3 separate regions of the Homo sapiens genome follow, and regions 1 and 2 are each reported to be linked to region 3. The links are microRNA targets in miRTarBase. Many come from high-throughput screens and were not tested one by one. Region 3 holds a microRNA gene; each other region holds the end of a gene's coding sequence.

Region 1 (3,157 bases), not on the chromosome of region 3:
TCAGGTTGAAGCGATTCCCTTGCCTCAGCCTCCTGAGTAGCTGAGACTACCGATGTGTGCCACGACGCCCAGCTAATTTTTGTATTTTTAGTAGAGGGAGGGTTTCACCATGTTGGCCAGGCTGGTCTCAAAACACCTGACCTCAAGTGATCCGCCCGCCTCGGCCTCCCAAAGTGCTGGGATTACAGGTGTGAGCCACCGTGTCCGGCCTGAAAACTTATTTTCTAAAGGGAAATTAATCTTAACTGTTTATTGATTTGGAGATTGTATCTCATTGGTAAAGAACAGTTACTTCCTTCACAGTCTAAAGACAAATTGTGTATTATTCTGTGTTAAATAGCATGGCACTGTTGATCAGGAGTTTACTTCTGTCTCATTACAATGTGAACTTGTTGCCCATAAAATAATTCTCTTAAGATTGATACATCCTGACTATGTACTAACATGTCATGTCAGTTTATTATTTTAAATAGAATGTGCTAATAACATATCATTTTAAGGTTTATGTGAACTATTTCTCTGAAAGAATAAAAATTTGTCACTGTATAATTGAACATATATTGCACTTTGTATTCACAGGTTTGGGGGAGGCAGATCAGACATGTAAACTATGTACTTCTTGCTAATTGAAATTATTTCTACATTAAACAGACTTGTAGAATTTACTTATACATGCTTGACTTTTTAATTATCTTTTTTCTCCTTTTCTTAAAGATGATACTTGTTGATGCCACTGTTATCATCCTCCTAGCAGAAGATAGTCCTACTGAGAAAATGAGCACTTTGATCATTCAGTCTTTGAACTTTAACCTTTGACTGGAAGTGACCTATAGGCAATGAAGACTACTTCCTTTTACTGCATTTTTACTCGTGTGCATTCTGGGCGCATGTTGATCGCTGGTTCAGTCCAGGCAACTGACATGCTTTTATTAGTCATACAGTATTAATGCAGGTGTCAGGAAATGTCAAATATAATTCCATTTTTTATTTTTATTTTTTTAAGCTTTTGGAAAAGCTCCAGGTCCTCATGTATTGTGCAATAACAATGACTTCCTTGGCGGTTTTGGTACGTTCATTGCCGGCAATGGGCGTTGTAACAGGAAAAGTTTTCATTAACTCCTGCCATTCAATGATTAATGCATGATAGGGCCTATGAAATGAACTTACTGGTTATAGTGGGAATATAAATAAAGTGAGGGATCCAACATTACTTTAAAAGTCACCCCAACTGTTTATATTTGGATTCTATGCACTGTGATCCTAAGGTTAACAGCATGAATTAACATGCGTCTTTAAAGGACTGTAATGAAAGATCATTGCATATTTATTGAATTGTTTATATCTACTGTCAAGTTGTTTTGACATGGAAGATTTTCAAGTAACATTGGCAGAGAGGTACAGTATGTTATCCCTATGGTGAAAATAAATTAATTTGTTGTATATAGTTCCTCAATCTCTGAAGTAAAGGTATGAGTAATATAGGGTATGAATGGTTTAATCAAGGCTTTATTTTGGAAGTAAGAAAAATGGCAGTGATGATTAAATTGCTGCAGTCCATAATTTGGGCTTGTTATTTGTACATTAAAGATTTTTTCCAAGTAAGTTACACTCTGTTAACTTCCTGCTAGCCATCAGCATGAGCCCTACTGCCTAAACACTATTTCATTTATTTATGTTTGGAAACCCCGTAAACATTTTTGTTTGCAATCTTGTTTCTTTTGTTATAAGTCAAGTTTGAATGTTACAATACTTTTATTGAAACTTTTGTTAAGTTTTTTCTTGTAAATTTTCTTTACTTGTGAGTATCATCTTGTCCTTTAATCCTGTACCCTAAAATAAGAAATACATTTTTGACAGAGGCTTAATGTTTTAACAAAAGAGTGTGGACATTTTTATTTTAAAATTTAGGCAAAAGTCACTATCAAATGGTTGCTTATTTGTCTCACACAGCCATATAGTTTTTCCTGGAGGGTTTTGTTTTGTTGTTGTTGAAAAGACTTTGCTTACAGCTAGATGAAACTTTCTATAGAAAAAAAAAATTGTTGAAAGGTCCAGTTCTCAGTACCATGTGAGTTAATGATACTACAACTAAGTTCTTTTTAAAAAGTGATTAATGTATTTTATAAATTACCTTTTCACATATGCAAAATCTGTTTCTACTACAATGTTATTTTTACTAATGCCTTATTGTTGCACTCTTTTTGAAATATCCTGCAGTGAATATATGAATCAATTTGGGCTTAAAACTGAAAGCCAGTTGGCTGAAAGGTTTGAAATACGTACCCCAGTAAAACCATTCAATCAATAATTGGTAAATAATATTTTAAAATTGTTTTTAATCTGTATAGATGACATTTTGTAGCTTTGTACATGTTGTTAATTAAGGGCATATAATTTTACACTCAAAGTATAATTGCTGAACTCAGGGGTGGGTAGACTTCAAAAATATGTCTGCTATAGAAATAACTTGAAAAAAAAAATTAAAACCGTGGCCAGCCACCAAATTGTGGACACTGTTTATATACTGCTAGTTAACAATTACCACTTTTAAAAAATTATAACCGTTTTTGTTCTATCTTGACTAGATAAATTCTCACAATGATCTCTGTCAGTTTTATTAGTTGGCCTGTTTAACCAAGACAGAAAGTCTTTGAATTACTCATAGTTTTAAACTGCTTTTAATATGAAAATTGCAGCTGTAAATTATGTATTTTCATATTTTGCGTAACTGCTCTACACTACTGTTTGACTTGATCTTCTTCTGGGGGTTAGGGAGAAATCTGTCTCCATATTGCTGGTTCTCTTACCAAAATGCTTTTATAAAGAAATGACCGGTGACATTTATTCACCAAAGGAATTAATATACTGAGTCAAAGATTAACAATGCTATACTATAGAGTAATAGGTCATATATAGCCTCAATTGAGTTTTTTATGACAATATTTTAACATACCTCTCTCTCTACATATAAATACCATAAAGTAAACTAAAATGACACAGAGGAAAGTAGAGGAAAATGAAATAATTTCGGTACATCTTATGGTTTAAAGAGTAGAAAATAAGATGAAATATCCTAAAATATAGGAGCACAGACATTTAAAATTCATAATCAGGCTAACAACACTCTCTTGAATTTAGGAATCATTGAAAACTCCTT
Region 2 (3,170 bases), not on the chromosome of region 3:
ATCCAGCAGCTGCTTCCTCTAATGCAGGACTCCCCAGGAGCACCCAGGCTTGAGTGGAGAAGCTGTTGGTACAGGAGAGGCGGCAGGAGGAGCAGGAGAGGCTGCATGCCATTCTTTTCGGGCTGCGGAGAACAGGGAGCTAAACATCACCATCATCTAAGAGCGGGTCAAGGAATTGAAAAAAAAAAACAAAACATTTAAGGGGTTAATATCCTACACAATTCATTTACTTCATTTGAATGTTAGAGCCACTTATGTTTATTTGTGTTTCTAATTTATAGTTTAAATTTATTTGTGTTTCTAATTTATAGTTTAAATTTATTTGTGTTTCTAATTTATAGTTTAAATTTATTTGTGTTTCTAATTTATAATTTAAATTTATTTGTAAAAAGTTAAATGAGAGTGGGTGTTTCTCTCATGTTCACTCTGGCATCTTTTAGCATTTTTTTAATTTGATAATTATAGGACGTTAGCATGCATATCGAGTTTGCCCTTATGTGGTGGGAGTTCAAACACACAAAGACCCACTGTATGCACACAACTGTTCTTGCTGGTTTGGGATAGGCTGCCATGCTTTTTGAATGTTAGTACAGCCTGTATATTCATTACGGAATTCAGATAAAATTTCCTTATGTTCTGCTGTTATGTTTGATCGAATCCTAATCACAGTGAGCTCTTCATTAGCTCAATATGCAGTTTGCCCTCAAGTGCGCGGTCTATTACTTTGTAATATGCCACTGTGAGTACTGACATTTACAGTTGTTTAAAGGTGGAGCACTGGAAACAGCCTTTCCCCCTTTTTCTGTGTATTGGGGATGGGAGTAATAACATTTTGGGGAGGTTTTTAAATCTCCCAGAAGAGGAAAGTGGCCTGCTTTGGCAGGTGTGTGCAGGATAGAATATGTTTCATTTGTTCCGGTGCCAAGAATGAGCGCTGTACTACGGTAGTTCCCTTAGGATTTGTATGTGCTCTGGGCTCATGAAGATACTGCCTCATGAGCTGTGGCAGTTGTACTCTTTTTTGATGACCTGAAAAGGGATTATTTCTGAGGAATGAAAGGCTCCCATCATGACTGTGGATGTGGAAAACCTTTTCTAGCTGAGAGCATTTATATCTACAATACATTTTAAAGTCAGCGTTCATGTTCCCTGTTTTAATCACATGACTACATGTCCCAGTACACAAAAGGGCACTGGTTGGCGTTCTCCTTAATGTATTTAGTAAAGATCAGAAGAAATCCTTTAAGAGTTTAAATGCCCCTGGAACAGGCATATACAGGCTCTAGTCAAGAATGAATTCGAGTGAAGGAAAGCTGTGTGACACCTGGCATTCCTCTGTGTTCATGGAGCTTATTTGAGGCTAGAAGATGGATTTTACCATCTAGACCTCTCTGGCTAATAGCTAGTCTTCAACCATCTGACATAGGAATTTACTTCTTTTCCTTGAATGGAGAACACTTTAAAAATAATAACAAACATTATTATAAACTAATATATGTGAGAGTACTTAGTTGAAACAAAAAGGAGTTTTAGTAGACAGTATTATACTACATTTGAAAATCAAGGAGCAGTTTATGCAACGTAAAATGTTTACAAACTGCAGCGCAATCTACTGTTTGTGACTGTCAAAGTGTCATGAGGAAAGTGTCTATACAATCACAGAGTTATATTTCCTCACAAAGTTCTTTACGAAGAGTGAAATATGTTTTTATACCTCTCAGTTTCAGTTAGAGGCATATTTTGTGTAATATTTATGGCTTAAAATGGACTAAAGGTCCTGTTCTTGCCTTGTCTGAACTTGCCGCTTTTGCATTCTTTGAGTTCAGTTTAAAGACACTTACTTTAACTCCATTTTAAACCCTCGGGCTAGAAATCGTACCACTGTTAATTAGCCACGTTATTTGGTCTAACAGTTTTTGTTTATCATTCTGAAACTGAGCTTATCTAATACATTGATAAATTATTTCAAAGGTATTTTTATAGTTCAAATCGCTTCACTTTTACCCTGACACGTATAAATGAATAGGAATGACCTTCAGATAGCGTTTAGCAACTGTAACCAATCTGACAATAATGTGTTCATCAGGTACCTGTGGATTAAATCACATACTGGCATATTTAAGATGAATGTCAGTCTGAAAAATAAATATACTATATTAATTCAAATACGACTCTTTGTGTAGGTATTTTGTCATATGTTTAAGAAAAAGCTAAAGAGAATGGAAATCCTATGACAATAACTCAAGTCTTTCTTCAAAGTGCATGCAGTCTTTTGCAGTACCTCATTCAGCCAAGTATTTGTTCTCTACCTCATTCAGTATAAGGCAGCCTTTAATTTGCTTAGAAGGCAACATTAGAAGGTTAGAGTTCAGCAGGAACATAGAATTTTAAAATGTGACTTCAACTGAATAAATTTGAATTTCTCTAGGGAGTAAAGAATCAAAACACCTATTTAAAGACTGCAAAATATGATAATTATTTTTAAAGTAATTGATTAAACCTGGTAGGTTTTCCCAAAATGAAAAACAATCAGTTCTAAAACCAAAGCTGATTTTTAGAAAATGTGAAAATGTAAATCAACCCTATCCATAATAGATTCTCTAAAACTTTATCTTACAGTCACTTTCAAATAACTATTCAAAAATGTAACTGCTATATTAACGTCTTAAAATAATTTAAAACATTTTAAAATATGAATACTGTAGTTTAAAACAAAGAATCTAGGGGAAGGAAAAGTAGACAAAGAAATGCCAATTCCAGTCCAAAGCTGTATTTGCCAAGTTTTCTTAGAATGACTTTTACCGATTTATGAATTCTTATACACAGAATGCATAATGGAAATACTGATTTTTGTCTAAAGTGGCATTATTGACTGCTTCTGTGATGCTACTGTAATGTAATACATTATTAAATTGTTTCAAGGTGCTGTTTTGCCTAAAAATTTTGTGTGTCTTGAAAACTATAGTATTGGGTATTGAGACTCTGCAAATTCTCGGCATGCTTGGCATGAGGTAATCGGTTTTTATTCTTACAAAATTGTAACTATGTAAGTGTGTTTATTAAAAGAACACAAACTAAAAAAGTTAACAGAAATTAAAGTTGTGGGATGAAAAAGTTACAGGATAAAAAAATACTGTGGAAAAGTGGCAAAAAAAAGTTGTGGAAAAAAA
Region 3 (3,170 bases):
GAGTTTAACACCAGCCTGGGTAACATAGCAAGACTCTACAAAAAATAAAATTTAGCTGGGCATGGTGGTGCGTGCCTGTGGTCCCAACTGCTTGGGAGGCTGAGGTGGGTGGATTGCTTGAGCCCAGGAGTCTGAGGCTGCAGTGAGTCATGATGACACCACTTCACTCCAGCCTGGATAACAGAGCAAGACCCTGTCTCTTAAAACAAAACAAAACTAAAGCTGGAAGCCATCTTGGAGATGGCCTAGGCCCAGAAGAGCCCGTAGGGAGCCCCAGAAGGAACATGTAGCCGTGTGCTCCCTGCCACCCCAGGAGCCATGTTCCACCGAGCTGGGGCAGATGCCTGGCTCTCTAACAAATAGGCGGCTGTTCGGTAGTTAAAACTTGGACGTGCTACAGACACAGCAGTCCTGGAACTTGGCTGAAGGTGGCCAGACATGGCTGGCTGTTCCTCTTTTCCTGCTCCAAAAGTGTTTGCTTCCCGAGCTGCCGCAGTCGGAACTCCCAGGCTCCGGGAGGAGCTGATGGCAGTGGCATACGGCGCTCTGTCGTGATCAGTGCAGCAATCTGTTCAGTGGCTTTTAGGTGTTTTGGAAAACAAAATAGCCATTGGTTCACTACCTTTCCTTTGGCTCTGACCAGGGAGAAAAGCTGGTAGTGAGCTCAGACCCTGCAGTGGGATGGGGTGCTCTCTGCTAGGTGCTGACCCCGCACAGGTATGGGGTGCTGTCTGCCAGGTGCTGACCCCGCAGAGGTATGGGGTGCTCTCTGCTAGGTGCTGACCCCGCAGAGGTATGGGGTGCTGTCTGCCAGGTGCTGGCGGGCCTGTTTTCCACATGGATTTCTGCCCTTTGTGTTCCAGATCCGTTCTTCCCCCTCTCCTTCCTGGTCAACAGCTGGCTCCCAGGGATGCTGGATGACCTCTTTCAGTCCATGTTCCTGTGCGCCCTGCTGCTCTTCTGGCTGTGCGTGTACCACGGGATTCGTGTCCAGGTGAGCCGGAGCCGCCCTCACTGCCGGGGGAGGTTCCAGACTGTGTCCTCCCTCCCGAACTCTGAGGACAGCCCAGAAAGGTGAATTTATCCATGGAAGCCTGTCTGCAGGCCCATACTCAATGGAAAAATCACGTTATGTACAATTACCAATTTGGTTTTCTTTATTTCTTACTTCTTATTTTTTTCTTTTTAGGGAGAAAGAAAGTGTTTAACTTTCTATTTGCCTAAATTCTTCATTGTTGGACTATTGTGGTTGGCTTCTGTTACGCTAGGAATATGGCAAACGTGAGTAATTCTATTATGTGTGAAACTTCAGTCATGAAAAGCATTTGACAAAAGTGGAAAGGCCAGGCCAGGCGTAGTGGCTCACGCCTGTAATCCCAGCACTTTGACAGGCTGAGGCAGGCAAGTCACTTGAGCTCAGGAGTTCAAGACCAGCCTGGGCAACATGGTGACACCCCGTCTCTACCAAAAATACAAAAATTAGCTGGCCGTGGTGGCGCATGCCTGTAGTCCCAGCTCCCTGGGAGGCTGAGGTGGGAGGATCGCTTGAGCCTGCGAGGCACAGGTTGCAATGAGCCGAGATTGCACCACTGCACTCCAGCCTGGGCAACAGAGTGAGACCTTGTCTCAAAAAAAAAAAAAAAGGTGAAAAGGCTTACAATCAAACTGTGTTCTGTGAACTCATCCAGAAAAGAATCAGCTTTCAGTTTATCTAACTTGGTGACACAGTAGACACCCCTTATTTTTGGGGGATTTGTTCCCAGACCCCCATTAACTATCTGCGGTCTTGGATAGTACTGATCCTTATATATAGCTGTTTATACCCTATGTATACCCATACTATGTTTTTCTTTTTTTTTTAGACGAATAGGAGGGTGACTTTAGTCACAGGCTGCTCAAAAACACAGGCTGCAGAGAACAGGATTTGGATTGGCAAACTCATTGTACCCTCATGTCACACTCCTTCTTTGCTCCTACCTTGGAGCATTTTGGCTGGGAGGCAAAACCCCAATGCTATTACAGGCAGTCCCCTTACCCCTCATTCCACACCCACTACCCAGAAACTGAAGCCTCATGACCCGCTTTGAGGAAAAATATCCCGTCCTGGTTTTCTGTGTTCCAGTCGGCCTTCCAAACACATCCTCCCCCTGGGACACAGACTTCAGGCCAGCCTGTATTACGTCAGGTTGCTAGTTGCCCTTTTCTGGGAGACTCCCAATGACTGTGCCCTCTCTGCTTAAAGACTGTAGAGGCAACTGGTGTTCTCACGCAAAGTGGCCAGGGTGTGGGAGACTAGATCTTTGACTCTGGCAGTCTCCAGGACTGTATGCAAGGCCAGGCCCAGGTGGGCATACTGGCAAAGGCTTTTGGGAACCCGGCTAGGGAGGAAGTAGGGAGCATCCGTTTCCATGATGATTCTCTCCAGTGGGATCTGCCTCAGCACTTCCCGGGCTTCTCAGGTGGAGGAGTACGTCAGGACTGCCATGAGGCCCACCGACGTTGGGAAAGTACTTCAGCAGGGGTTCCATGGCCAGGTAGCTGCAGTGAAGCAATGCTTGTGTATCTTGTAGTCAGAGAACACACATTTTCTCATGGTGTCCAGCAGATCCTCGTCAGCTTGCTGGCAGAGGATCACCAAAGCTTCTCTAGAGACGCAGCCAGCTCAAGCTGTCTCTTAAATACCTTGTGATGTTCTGGGACAGGCATGGTGCACTTGTAGGAGTAATTGAAGCCTGTTTCTCCAAATGCCACAGTCGTGGGGTGCCTTAAGGCTTGTAAAAGATTTCTTTCCTGACTCTTATTGTAGTAACATGGAAAATGAGGGTGACAGCCAAAGGCCCCCCAGACCAGATTCTCTTTCAACAGCTCCCCCCGTAGGCAATTTGTCAGGGTGAGGGTGGCAGAGGTCAGAGATGCAACCCTGAAATTCCTTAGAGAAGGAGCTGCTGTAAATTCTTCTGAACTTAGTCAAGGTCCCTTTGAAAGACAACTTGGAATACAGCATATCCAAATGACAGTGGGTATCAGTGAAGCCCTGCTCTAGGCTTGGCTCCCAGTGGCTCTTTGGCAGGGAGCTGGATGTGTGTCCTCCACAAGGACACAGAGGCATCTCCTCTTGGAATGTTCTTCTTTGCTTCACCTCTTTTCCTCCCGAGCTTCTGGAGAAGTGA

Evidence for each region. Region 3 holds the annotated microRNA hsa-miR-7161-5p (UAAAGACUGUAGAGGCAACUGGU, at 2,238-2,260, shown strand). A microRNA usually pairs through its seed, bases 2 to 8, with sites in the 3' UTR of a target mRNA and lowers its output. Matches are read on the target gene's strand: a 7mer-m8 pairs with bases 2 to 8, a 7mer-A1 pairs with bases 2 to 7 and ends in A, and an 8mer does both.
Region 1: the mRNA of UBE2W is a reported target of hsa-miR-7161-5p. Seed matches in the 3' UTR shown: 7mer-m8 at 794-800, 7mer-A1 at 1,289-1,295 and 7mer-m8 at 2,646-2,652.
Region 2: the mRNA of GOLGA6L4 is a reported target of hsa-miR-7161-5p. Seed matches in the 3' UTR shown: 7mer-m8 at 2,245-2,251 and 7mer-m8 at 2,267-2,273.

What each region holds. Positions count from the first base shown.
Region 1 is chr8:73,791,673-73,794,829 of GRCh38, reverse strand. It overlaps UBE2W (ubiquitin conjugating enzyme E2 W), which reads left to right. Exons shown (of 6, transcript NM_018299.6): 6 at 715-3,157. The coding sequence ends at 728. Among named protein-coding and RNA genes, the nearest start is that of STAU2, 46 kb to the right of the region's middle.
Region 2 is chr15:84,242,433-84,245,602 of GRCh38, forward strand. GOLGA6L4 (golgin A6 family like 4) reads left to right here. Exons shown (of 9, transcript NM_001267536.3): 9 at 28-2,926. The coding sequence ends at 160. Among named protein-coding and RNA genes, the nearest start is that of GOLGA6L4, 8.2 kb to the left of the region's middle.
Region 3 is chr6:158,607,470-158,610,639 of GRCh38, forward strand. It overlaps MIR7161 (microRNA 7161), which reads left to right and starts at 2,238; the gene lies at 2,238-2,321. It overlaps TMEM181 (transmembrane protein 181), which reads left to right. Exons shown (of 17, transcript NM_001376852.1): 9 at 864-994; 10 at 1,190-1,281. It also overlaps the pseudogene TATDN2P2. RefSeq lists an enhancer at 1,850-2,351.